3 linked regions of the Homo sapiens genome follow. The protein of the gene in region 2 purifies or fractionates together with the protein of the main gene of each other region. This does not show direct contact. Each region holds a gene or a part of one and is shown on either strand. Other genes may lie near its edges.

Evidence for each region. The genes of interacting proteins can lie anywhere in the genome.
Region 1: the proteins of DEFB125 (region 2) and LMLN purify together in Homo sapiens (affinity purification with mass spectrometry; one large-scale study listed by BioGRID and IntAct). This does not show direct contact.
Region 3: the proteins of DEFB125 (region 2) and GDF11 purify together in Homo sapiens (affinity purification with mass spectrometry; one large-scale study listed by BioGRID and IntAct). This does not show direct contact.

Annotation. Positions count from the first base shown.
Region 1 is NC_000003.12:197,963,217-197,966,716, reverse strand, and holds part of LMLN (leishmanolysin-like peptidase isoform 1 precursor), read right to left. Parts: intron 1-3,500. UniProt on the Homo sapiens protein: Metalloprotease.
Region 2 is NC_000020.11:86,253-90,471, reverse strand, and holds the start of DEFB125 (beta-defensin 125 preproprotein), read right to left. Parts: upstream 2,801-4,219; 5' UTR 2,763-2,800; coding exon 2,705-2,762; intron 1-2,704. UniProt on the Homo sapiens protein: Has antibacterial activity.
Region 3 is NC_000012.12:55,753,122-55,755,442, forward strand, and holds part of GDF11 (growth/differentiation factor 11 preproprotein), read left to right. Parts: 3' UTR 1-2,321. UniProt on the Homo sapiens protein: Secreted signal that acts globally to regulate anterior/posterior axial patterning during development. May play critical roles in patterning both mesodermal and neural tissues. It is required for proper vertebral patterning and orofacial development.

The DNA.
Region 1 (3,500 bases), on a different chromosome or scaffold from region 2:
AGTGAGGTTCATCTCAAGAATGCAAGGCTGATTTGACATTCAAAAAAAATCAATCAATGTAACTCATAATATCAACAGAGTAAAGAAGAAAAGCCACATGATTGTATCAACTGGTGCAGGAAAGACAGTTAACAAAATTCAACATCCATCCATGATTAAAAAAAAAAAAAACTCTTAGAAAACTAGGTATAGAAGGGAATTTTCTTAATTTTATAAAGCATACCTACCCAAAAACTCCACAATTAATATTTTTAACAGTGGAAGACAATGTTTTCCCTCTAAGATCAGAAACAAGACAAGGATGTCTACTCTCACCACTCTTATTCAACATCATGCCCCAGACAGTGTGATAATATTAACATTAAAGATGTAATAGGCCAGGTGCAGTGGCTCATGCCTGTAATCCCAACACTTTGGGAGGCTGAGGCGGGTGGATCACTTGAGGTCAGGAGTTTGAGACTAGCCTGGCTAACATGGCGAAACTTGTCTCTACTAAAAATACAAAAATTAGCCGGGCATGATGGCAGGTGCCTGTAATCCCAGCTACTCTGGAGGCTGAGGCAGGAGAATTGCTTGAACCCAGGAGGCAGAGGTTGCAGTGAGCCAAGATTGTGTCACTGCACTCCAGCCTGGGCAACGGAGAGAGACTCTGTCTCAAAAATAAAAACATGCAATAAACAAAAGATATATGTTGTAATGCCTAAAATGCACAAGCACACACACATACACACAGGTAAATGTAGGCAACTGAAAAGATACACATGTAAGCTTGAACCACAAGCAAGCTAAATACACCTATTTTCTCCTGTATTAATACAGTCTTTATTAGGCTAGAACACAGTGGTGCCAACCTGGCTCACTGCAGCCTTCACCTCCTGGGCTCAAGTGATTCCCCCACCTCAGCCCCACCAAGTAGGTGGGACTACAGGTGTACAACACCACACCCAACTAATTTTTGTATTTTTTGTAGACACGGGGTTTCACTAAGTTGCCCAGGCTGGTCTTGAACTCCTGAGCTCAAGCGATTTGCCATCCCGGCCTCCAAAAGAGCTAGACTTATAGGCATGAGTGACTGTACTTGGCCAATAGTTTTTAATAGAGAAAATCTGAAGTAAAGTATCAATCACCTCAGCTTATTAACATGTATAGAAATCTATATTCAATAACTACAGAATAGGCCAGGTACAGTGACTCATGTCTATAATCCCAGCACTTTGGGAGGCCAAGGCAGGAGGATTGCTTGAGTCCAGGAGCTCAAGACCAGCCCGGGCAACATACTGAGATCCCATCTCTAAAACAATAAAATAAAAAAAAACTATAGAATATATATTCTTCACAAGTACACGTGAAAAATTAAACAGGATAGATCATATTCTAAACCATAAATAAAATAATCTCAGCCAGGTGCAGTGGCTCACGCTTGTAATCCCAGCACTTTGGGAGGCTGAAGCAGGAGGATTGCTTGAAACTGGGAGTTCAAGACCAATCTGGGCAACACAGCAAGACTCTGTCTCTACAAAAATAAAAATAAAAAATGTGCCAGGTGTGGTGGCATGTGGCTGAAGTCCTAGCTCCTCATAAGGTTGAGGCGGGGAGACTGCTTGAACACAGGAGTTCGAGGTGGCAGTGAGCTATGATCATATCACTGCACTCCAGCCTGGGTGACAGAGGGACACCTTGTCTCTTTCTTTCTTTTTTTTTTTTTTTTTGAGACAGAGTTTCGCTCTTGTCGCCCAGGCTGGAATGCAGTGGCACAATCTCAGCTCACTACAAACTCCACCTCCTGAATTCAAGCAATTCTCCTGCCTCAGCCTCCAGAGTAGCTGGGATTAAAAGTGCCCGCCACCATACCTGGTTAATTTTTGTATTTTTAGTAGAGACAGGTCTCGCCATGTTGGCCAGGGTGGTCTCAAACTCCTGACCTAAGGTGATCCACCCACCTCGGCCTCCCAAAGTGCTGGGATTACAGGCATGAGCCACTGCACCCGACCAAGACCCTGTCTCTTAAAAAACTTTTTTAGGCCGGGCGTGGTGGCTCACGCCTGTAATCCCAGCACTTTGGGAGGCCAGGGCAGGCAGATTACAAGGTCAAGAGATCAAAACCATCCTGGCCAACATGGTGAAACCCCATCTCCACTAAAAATACAAAAATTAGCTGGGTGTGGTGGCGTGCACCTGTAGTCCCAACTACTCAGGAGGCTGAGGCAGGGTAATAGCTTGAACCCAGGAAGCCGAGGTTGCTCTGCTGAGATTGCGCCACTGCACTCCAGCCTGGGCAACAGAGCAAGACTCTGTCTCAAAAAAAAAAAACAAAAAACAAAAAACAAAAAAAAAATTTTAACCTAAATGATAATTAAAATGCAAAGTGTCAAAATTTGTGAAGAGCAGCTAAAGTTGTACTTAGAAATTTATATCTTTGAATGTTTACATTAGAAGGAAAAAAAGGTTAAAAAACAGTCATCTAAGTTTCCGCCTAACAATATGAGCAAACTAAATCCACAATAAGTAGAAAAAGGAAATAACAAAGAACAGAAAACAATGAAATAGAAACAAACATTAAAGAAAATTACCAAAGCCAACATGACCAAGTAAGGTTTATCCCAAAAAAGCAACGTTGATTTACTATTGGAAAATGCAATGTAATCTACCACATAACAGTTCATAAAGTGAGAAACTATATGATTATCTCAATAATTACCAGAAAAAACAAAAAGCATTTGACAAAATTTGTCCCCATTCAGGATAAAAACCCTCGGGAAACCAGAAACCAAAGGGAGCTTTCTCAATCTGATAAAGGGAACTACAAAAAAATGTAAAGTTAACATCATACTTAATGGTCAGAGACTGGTCCTAAGATCAGGAACAAATGGCAAGGAGGCGTGCTATCTCACTTTTGCTCAGCCTGGAACTGCCTGTCCTCACCAGAGCAATAAGGGGGAAAAAATACATAAATGATACAAAACTACAACAACAAAAATTGTTCCTATTTATAGTTAATACATTGCTAACATCAAAAATTGTAAGGGAGGAAACCCTAGTAGAATAAATAAGTTTAGCTAGGTCTCAGAAGACAAGGTTAATATACAAAAATTATTTCTACCTACTAGCAGTGTATTTTTACATACTAGCAGCAAACAACTGGAAAACTTTAACCATAATTCCACTGACAATGGCATCAAAAAATAAAAGACTTAGGAAAACATTTAACAAAAAACATGCAAGATCTGGCTGGGCACGGCGGCTCATGCCTGTAATCCTGGCACTTTGGGAGGTCGAGGCAGGAGGATCGCCTAAGGCCAGGAGTTCAAAACCCACCTGGACTCTGTCTCAACAAAAAATAAAAAATTAGCCAAGTGTAGTGGCGCATACTTGGGAGTCCCAGCTACTTGGGAGATTAAGGCAGAAGGATCATTTGAGCCCAGGAGTTCAAGCCTGCTGTGAGCTATGATTCTGCCACTGCACTCCAGCCTGAGTGACAGAGCAAGACTGTCTCAAAACAA
Region 2 (4,219 bases):
GTGACTAGAATCAGAGTGGCAGCAATGGAGGTGGCGAGAATAATTGCATTCTGGATATAATTTGCAGGCAGATGTAATAGACTTCCTGATAGATATGAGTGTCATAGGATATAGAAAAATCATAGATAATTCCAAGAATTTGGTTTTAGCAGTAGAATGATGGCAATTGGGAATAATTCATAATTTTTTTTTTCTAAAGTGACAACAGTCATTTTTTTCAAAGAACTTCAGTCTGGAACTATTATGTTGTTAGGACATGTGATCTTCATCACCAGTATCTCGAAATCCTAAAATTAGAAATATGACTAGCAATTGTATGTTTCTAAGTAGGGGAGCCATCTAGCCAAAACATTATCCCATGTGTGGAGTTCTTTCTAAAACATACCAGATATATAATCAGCTAGCATCAACTTAAAATATATCTATGGATACCAGTCCACTGATAGCTTGGCTTGGTAAAAAGTTGCTTCACAAGCCATCAGGTGCTATCTCACTTGAAAACACATAATATAAAGCCCAGAGAGACTAAATAGCTAAATTTCAAAACAAAACCTATAAGAGAACACAAAAATGAAAATCTCTAAATCAAAAGAAATGAAAACTACCTCTCCAAAATAAAAGAGAAAGAGAGACATAGACAATTTGTAGAAAAGTTAAATATACATTAAGCATGTATTTGAAGTTCGACTTCCCCATTACTCACAGACATAAATAAAAATTAAATATTTATATATAATATTTCATTTTTAGGACTTGGCAAGTATTCAAAAATTGATAACACATGAAGCAGACAGAAAAAAGTACATCTCCAGGAATTTTATGCTGAATGATTTATGTATAAGAAAGGTTATACTAGCCATCCTTGTCTATAAAATGTAAATGCACTTATTTATGCAAAAACAATTTGGCTAAGTAATTTAAACAGTATCCATTCTATAAAATTTATACAGTCATTGGAAATACAGTTTTTGAAAATAGTAAATGGGAAAATACTAATAGTATAATAGAAAATTTATAAGTATGCTATACATTTTTATTCAAATAAGAAAACTGAGGAAGAACAATAGATCAAAAATATTTTGTCTCTTTTAACTTCTTTACAATTTTTTTACTTCTTTACAATTTCAAAATTTCCAAATTTTCAACAAATACAGCAGTTTATAATCAGAAATGAATGTAGATATTAATTCTGTAACTCACATTACATCAACATGTGAATCAAGACATAACAGATCATAGGCACAGTTATAACCATTTAATAGACATGAATAGCATCTTTCTAGGCAACATATAACACCTCCAAATTTAACAAAAGCCAAATTTCTTAGTATATAAAGATAATTAAGAAAGTTTAGAAATCTAATGGACTGGATGTTCAAACTCATTTATAACTAAAGTGTCATGAATTCAAACATCAGGACATCATTTTCACATATTAGACTGTAAAACTGAATGTAGTAGAAAACTGAATGTAGTAGAAAAAACAAAAAGGACTGATGAGGGTGTGGGAAGCTGACACTCTTGCAACTGGTGATAGGAGAGAAGAATAGTTCAGCTTTTCTGGTAGGTGGTTTGACTGTGTGTGTGTGTGTGTGTGTGTGTGTGTCCACGTGTCCAGTCATAAATGAAAAGACATACATTTGTTTACAAATTTTTCTTGCTGAATTGTTTTTGATAATTAAAGACCTATTTTTCATCAGTAGCGGAGTAATTAATGTGAGGCAATTCATCTGCTCCTCCTCAAAGTTTTACTTATCGATTAAAAATAATGAACTAGGTTTATGTATGGATAAGATGTCTCTAATATATTGCTAGTACATTGCAGAACAATTCACATGGTGCATTTGCAATTGCATTTTTTAAAAATCTAAAAGGTATACACATGCAAATATAAATATATTTGTATTTGCTAGGATATATAAGAAATTGGTAACATTGATTGATTCTGAAGGGGAAGACTGAAGAACTGGTATTCTTGGACAGACAAACATTTTTCTTTTCCTTAAACCCTATAAATCCATCGATTGCTTGATACATAAGTCAATTGCAAGTATTATTTTTTAATAAAAAGTTAACAATTTTCAAAAGTAGCATTATTAAATAGTGGAAACAGACTGTTCCTATTCATCTAAAATTAGAAGCTCCCCATTGGTCACTAGTCTGTCTATCCTGTCTTCACTCCACTTATTTCCACTTCTACCCCAAACATATATATTGTCTCTTCCATATGATAGTGCTACAGAATCTACAAACTGTCAATGGACTTGTTCACCATATCTAAGAACATGAAAGTGAGGGCCTCCCTCTGAAGGTACCCTCCGGGCAAAGAAGAATTCAAGATGGTAGGAGAACTAATAGGACACAACAATGAAATAGATACAACAGAATAATCGAAATGGAAGTGAAGTGAGGCTGAACTAACATTGGATAGTTATGTAGAGAGACAGATAGGGTGGCTCAGAGCATTAAGGAAATTCTTGTCTTTGGAGAAATGCCTCAGAGGACATCCCAGCTTGCTAGATGCCCCTAACAGAAAGATTCTCAGAGACTAGGGGCATGGAGCTGCCAAAATAAGAGCATTCTGCTGCTCTTTGTTGGCCCAGATTTTTCCTGCAGATTCCCTCTCTTCCCATCATGATACCAGGGGAGCCCAAGGGCAACAACTCATCCTAGTCATCATCTCTGCTTTATAGGGTTCCATTACCTTTGGTCACCCGAGTTAGCAACCCACAGATAATGAAGGTCAGCATCAGGATATTCATGGCTCCTGGGAGAGAGGAAGCTCTGTGTCCTGAGGAATACAGAACACTGCACAGCAAGGAATTTAAGTGGTCACCTTTACTGGTCTATCATGGGTGATGAACCAGAGAAGGGGAAAATGCCATGCCACCCAGATCACCAGACCATTAATTTGCAACACTGAGTGTGCATGACACAATAACGTCTGCTTCTAGAAATTATTAAAGAAAGCTGAGGCCTTATGAGATAAGCTATTATCCCGTAGAACTGTAAGGTCTGATGGAAAGAAACAGCCCCAAGAGGAAGTTTTTGTTAACTTTAGATGGGCTCAATTGTCCTTCTCCTCTGTCTGTATGCAGCACTTTGTACATACCCAATGACAGCAGAATGGTGTGTAAAGATATCACTTGTGGCAGTTCAATAGCTTACAACATCCGGTATTCACCTTTTCTTCTGAGTGATCACCCCGATATGAATTCCTGTGAAACAAGAAAGACACTTTTTAACTAATAAGTTCATAAGATTCCATCAATTATGAGACAGAAGGAATTTGGAATGAAAATAGTGAAAACAGGAAAACAGGTTTTATTGGTGCTCTTCTTTTTCCCGTTCCGCTGTCCCATCAACTCTTTTCCCTCATTCAGAAATACAAATAAGAAATGAAATATTGAGAGAGAGGAAACATTTTAAAAGGAGAGGGAGAGAGAAAGAGAGAGAGGAGAGAGGCCCAATGTAACATTATGCCCCCCATCCCCACTACCAAAGGAGAAAAATATAGGAGACATTTGTGAAATTGCCCAGTAGGAGTGATCAGCATTTTATCTCCTGGAAGAGTTTGCTGAGCTGTATTTCTCCCACATATGTTTAATACCAAGGAAATCAGGAAAATTTTAAAAAAATTTTCTAAACAGCTGCACTGTTTAGAAAAAAAACTGCAGCTCACTGCCCATGTTCATTTAATTTTACATTAACATGCTCTGGAGGCTGACTGATGTTCAGTGTGAAAATAAAATATACAAACTGTTCTTGGAATTATTTTTAAACAGAACTAACATCAGAATCATCTGAATAATCAGAATCATCTATTTTGGAAAAAACCGGATTCATTAAATGACTCTTTGGCCCAAAACTGTTTGAGAACAATGTTAACATGGGAATGCTATGCTTTCTAGAATTTGACATTTTCAGCGATCAAGAATTTCTATATTTTGTAAATGGAAATACCACTGCTAACAACAAGATGCTATAAATAGAATGATGATTTGTGTTTTCAAAGTCGATATATTAGAACGATGTGAAAATAATAATAAAGGCGAGATATTTTGTGGCAAAGTTATCTCAGGGTAAACCCTGCAGCTGCAAGTGCCACCAGCGAGTATTCTGGGTGAAAATGGGAAAAGGGTTAAAAATGCAGGATGGCCAAAGCCATCCTAAGCAAAAAGAACAAAACTAGAGGAATCACATTACCTCACTTCAAATT
Region 3 (2,321 bases), on a different chromosome or scaffold from region 2:
AACAGTCCCAAAGACAACAAGACCCCTCTCCCAGCCTCCACAGAATGGAAGATCTAAAGGTTCTCTTGAGATGATCCAGCTAGTATGGAAGATCTAAAGGTTCTCTTGAGATGATCCAGCTAGTGTCCTATTCTCCTGCAGTCCCTGTTCCTAGGTTTCCTCAACGAAGTTTGACAAAAATCTAAACCAACATAGCCAACGAACTTGCCTTGTTACACAAGAGTGGCTAAAATAGCATCTCAAATATTCTTTCAGTTCACTGTAAAAATTTTTCCCATGTACCTAGAGCACAATTCCCCAGGAATATGAGTTGGGAATGGCAAAAGAATATTGCCTGACTCACATTTTTCAAAAATAAGGAAAGCTGGCTGGGCGCAGTGGCTTACATCTGTAATCCCAGCACTTTGGGGGGCCGAGGCGGGCGGATCATGCAAGGTCCGGAGTTCGAGACCATGCTGGCCAACATTGTGAAACCTCATCTCTACTAAAATACCCAAAATTAGCCGGGCGTGGTGGCGTGCGCCTGTAATCCCAGCTACATGGAAGGCTGAGGCAGAAGAATCGCTTGAACCCAGGTGGCGGAGGTTGCAGTGAGCTGAGATCGCACCACTGCACTCTAGCATGGTGACAGAGTGAGACTCCCATCTCCAAAAAAAAAAAAAAAAAAAAAAAAAGGAAAGCAGGACCCAGTGGTGTGCTCCTGTAGTTCCAGCTATTCAGGAGGCTGTGGCAGGAGGACCACTTGAGGCCAGAGGGTCAAGGCTGCAGTGTGCTATAATTGGGCCTGTAAATAGCCACTGTACTCCAAGCTGAGCAACACAGTAAGACACTGTCTCTAAAAATAATTAAAGTAAAATAAAAATAAGGAAAGCTCCTGTGACATCAACCTGATCCAGAATTGGGGACAGCGCTACTGCGGGTTCAATGTACTGCCATGTTTTCCCTGTCTTATCAGTTCTATCAGCACACTGACCCCACTCGAGACCAACTACAAGACTAAGGCTGGAAGTGGTTGAGTAGCAGAAGTGTTATGTATTCTATCTTCCCAAGGGAACCATATCCACATCTACCCCTAACTTTGGCCTGAGCTGAAAATGGGTTTTCTCTCCCTGTGGCTCATTTGTTTCCTATATTGAGAGAACACCCAAAAAAAGACTACTCAAGATGACTTTTTACAAGTCTTTTCTTTATCCTAAAACATCCTCCAACCGAAGGCATGGGAAGCTATCCTATACTCTGACCTTGCCTATATTTTAAATGGCAGGGGCCCCAAGCTAAGAATCAGCAGGCAGTGGCATCTACAGCTTCTGGTCTGTAGTGGCGTAGAAGCAGGAAAATCAATGCTCCAAAGCAACAATGTCCAGCTTTCCTGCCAGTGAGCTGGGCTTGAGGGAGTGAATGGGACTCTTTCTGCCTTTTCTTTTTCTCAAAATACGACTGCATTAACTGGGTGTATGCACACACAAACATGTTCAAACTAGGGCACTCATACCTAGCTAGAACCTACTCAGGGAAAGAAATATGTATTTCCACAGTACCCTGATCACCCAGTAAAAGCTAATATTTATTGAATAATTACTATGCAAATTATGGTAAGCAAATTGTAGTGTGAATACATGATATGAGAATATCACTTAATTCACACAGCAACCTTCACAATGGGGTTCCTTTTGGTACAGTCTGAAAAGAGAATGATTATCTGCGCAGGGTCTCAGAGCTAGTGTGGTAGAATAAGAAATTAAACCTAAGTAGTTGCTAAACAATATTACATTCTAATCTATCCTATTGAAAGTGATCCGGGAGGTAGAAACCTAAATACAGGAATAACATAAGGGAAAGAGATAACAAGAAAGTTAGGGACACCTTGGACTCAAAGAATCTGGAAAGATGTGAAACCTGTAATTTTAAATCCCTTTGGAAGGGAAAAACAAGAAAAGTCTAGATATGGCAAGAGAAGGGGAGGTTAAATTTTGGGGGGATTCCAATAATCAGAAATAAGTGGCATTGCCAGAGGCCCTCATATAAGAGAACAGCAAAAAAGTTATCCTCCCTTAAGTTCCTCCCTCACTCCTCATATCAGACACAGCAAGAGAACTCAGCTCAACACCAAGAAGTCCTGCCCTTATTCACACCTTCCTTCCTATAGCCCTCATCCTCACAGAAGCTTCTAGCCTCTATCTTCAGCAGTTCTTAAGAGGTGGGGTGGGGGGCTGGGCAGTTTAGAGTGAGAGTGGAAAAAAAGAATAATCCTAGAGAACCATAAAAAAGTACAGATTTACAGCTGAGGAAGCTAGTTCTCCCCACAGCTTTTATAGACTCCC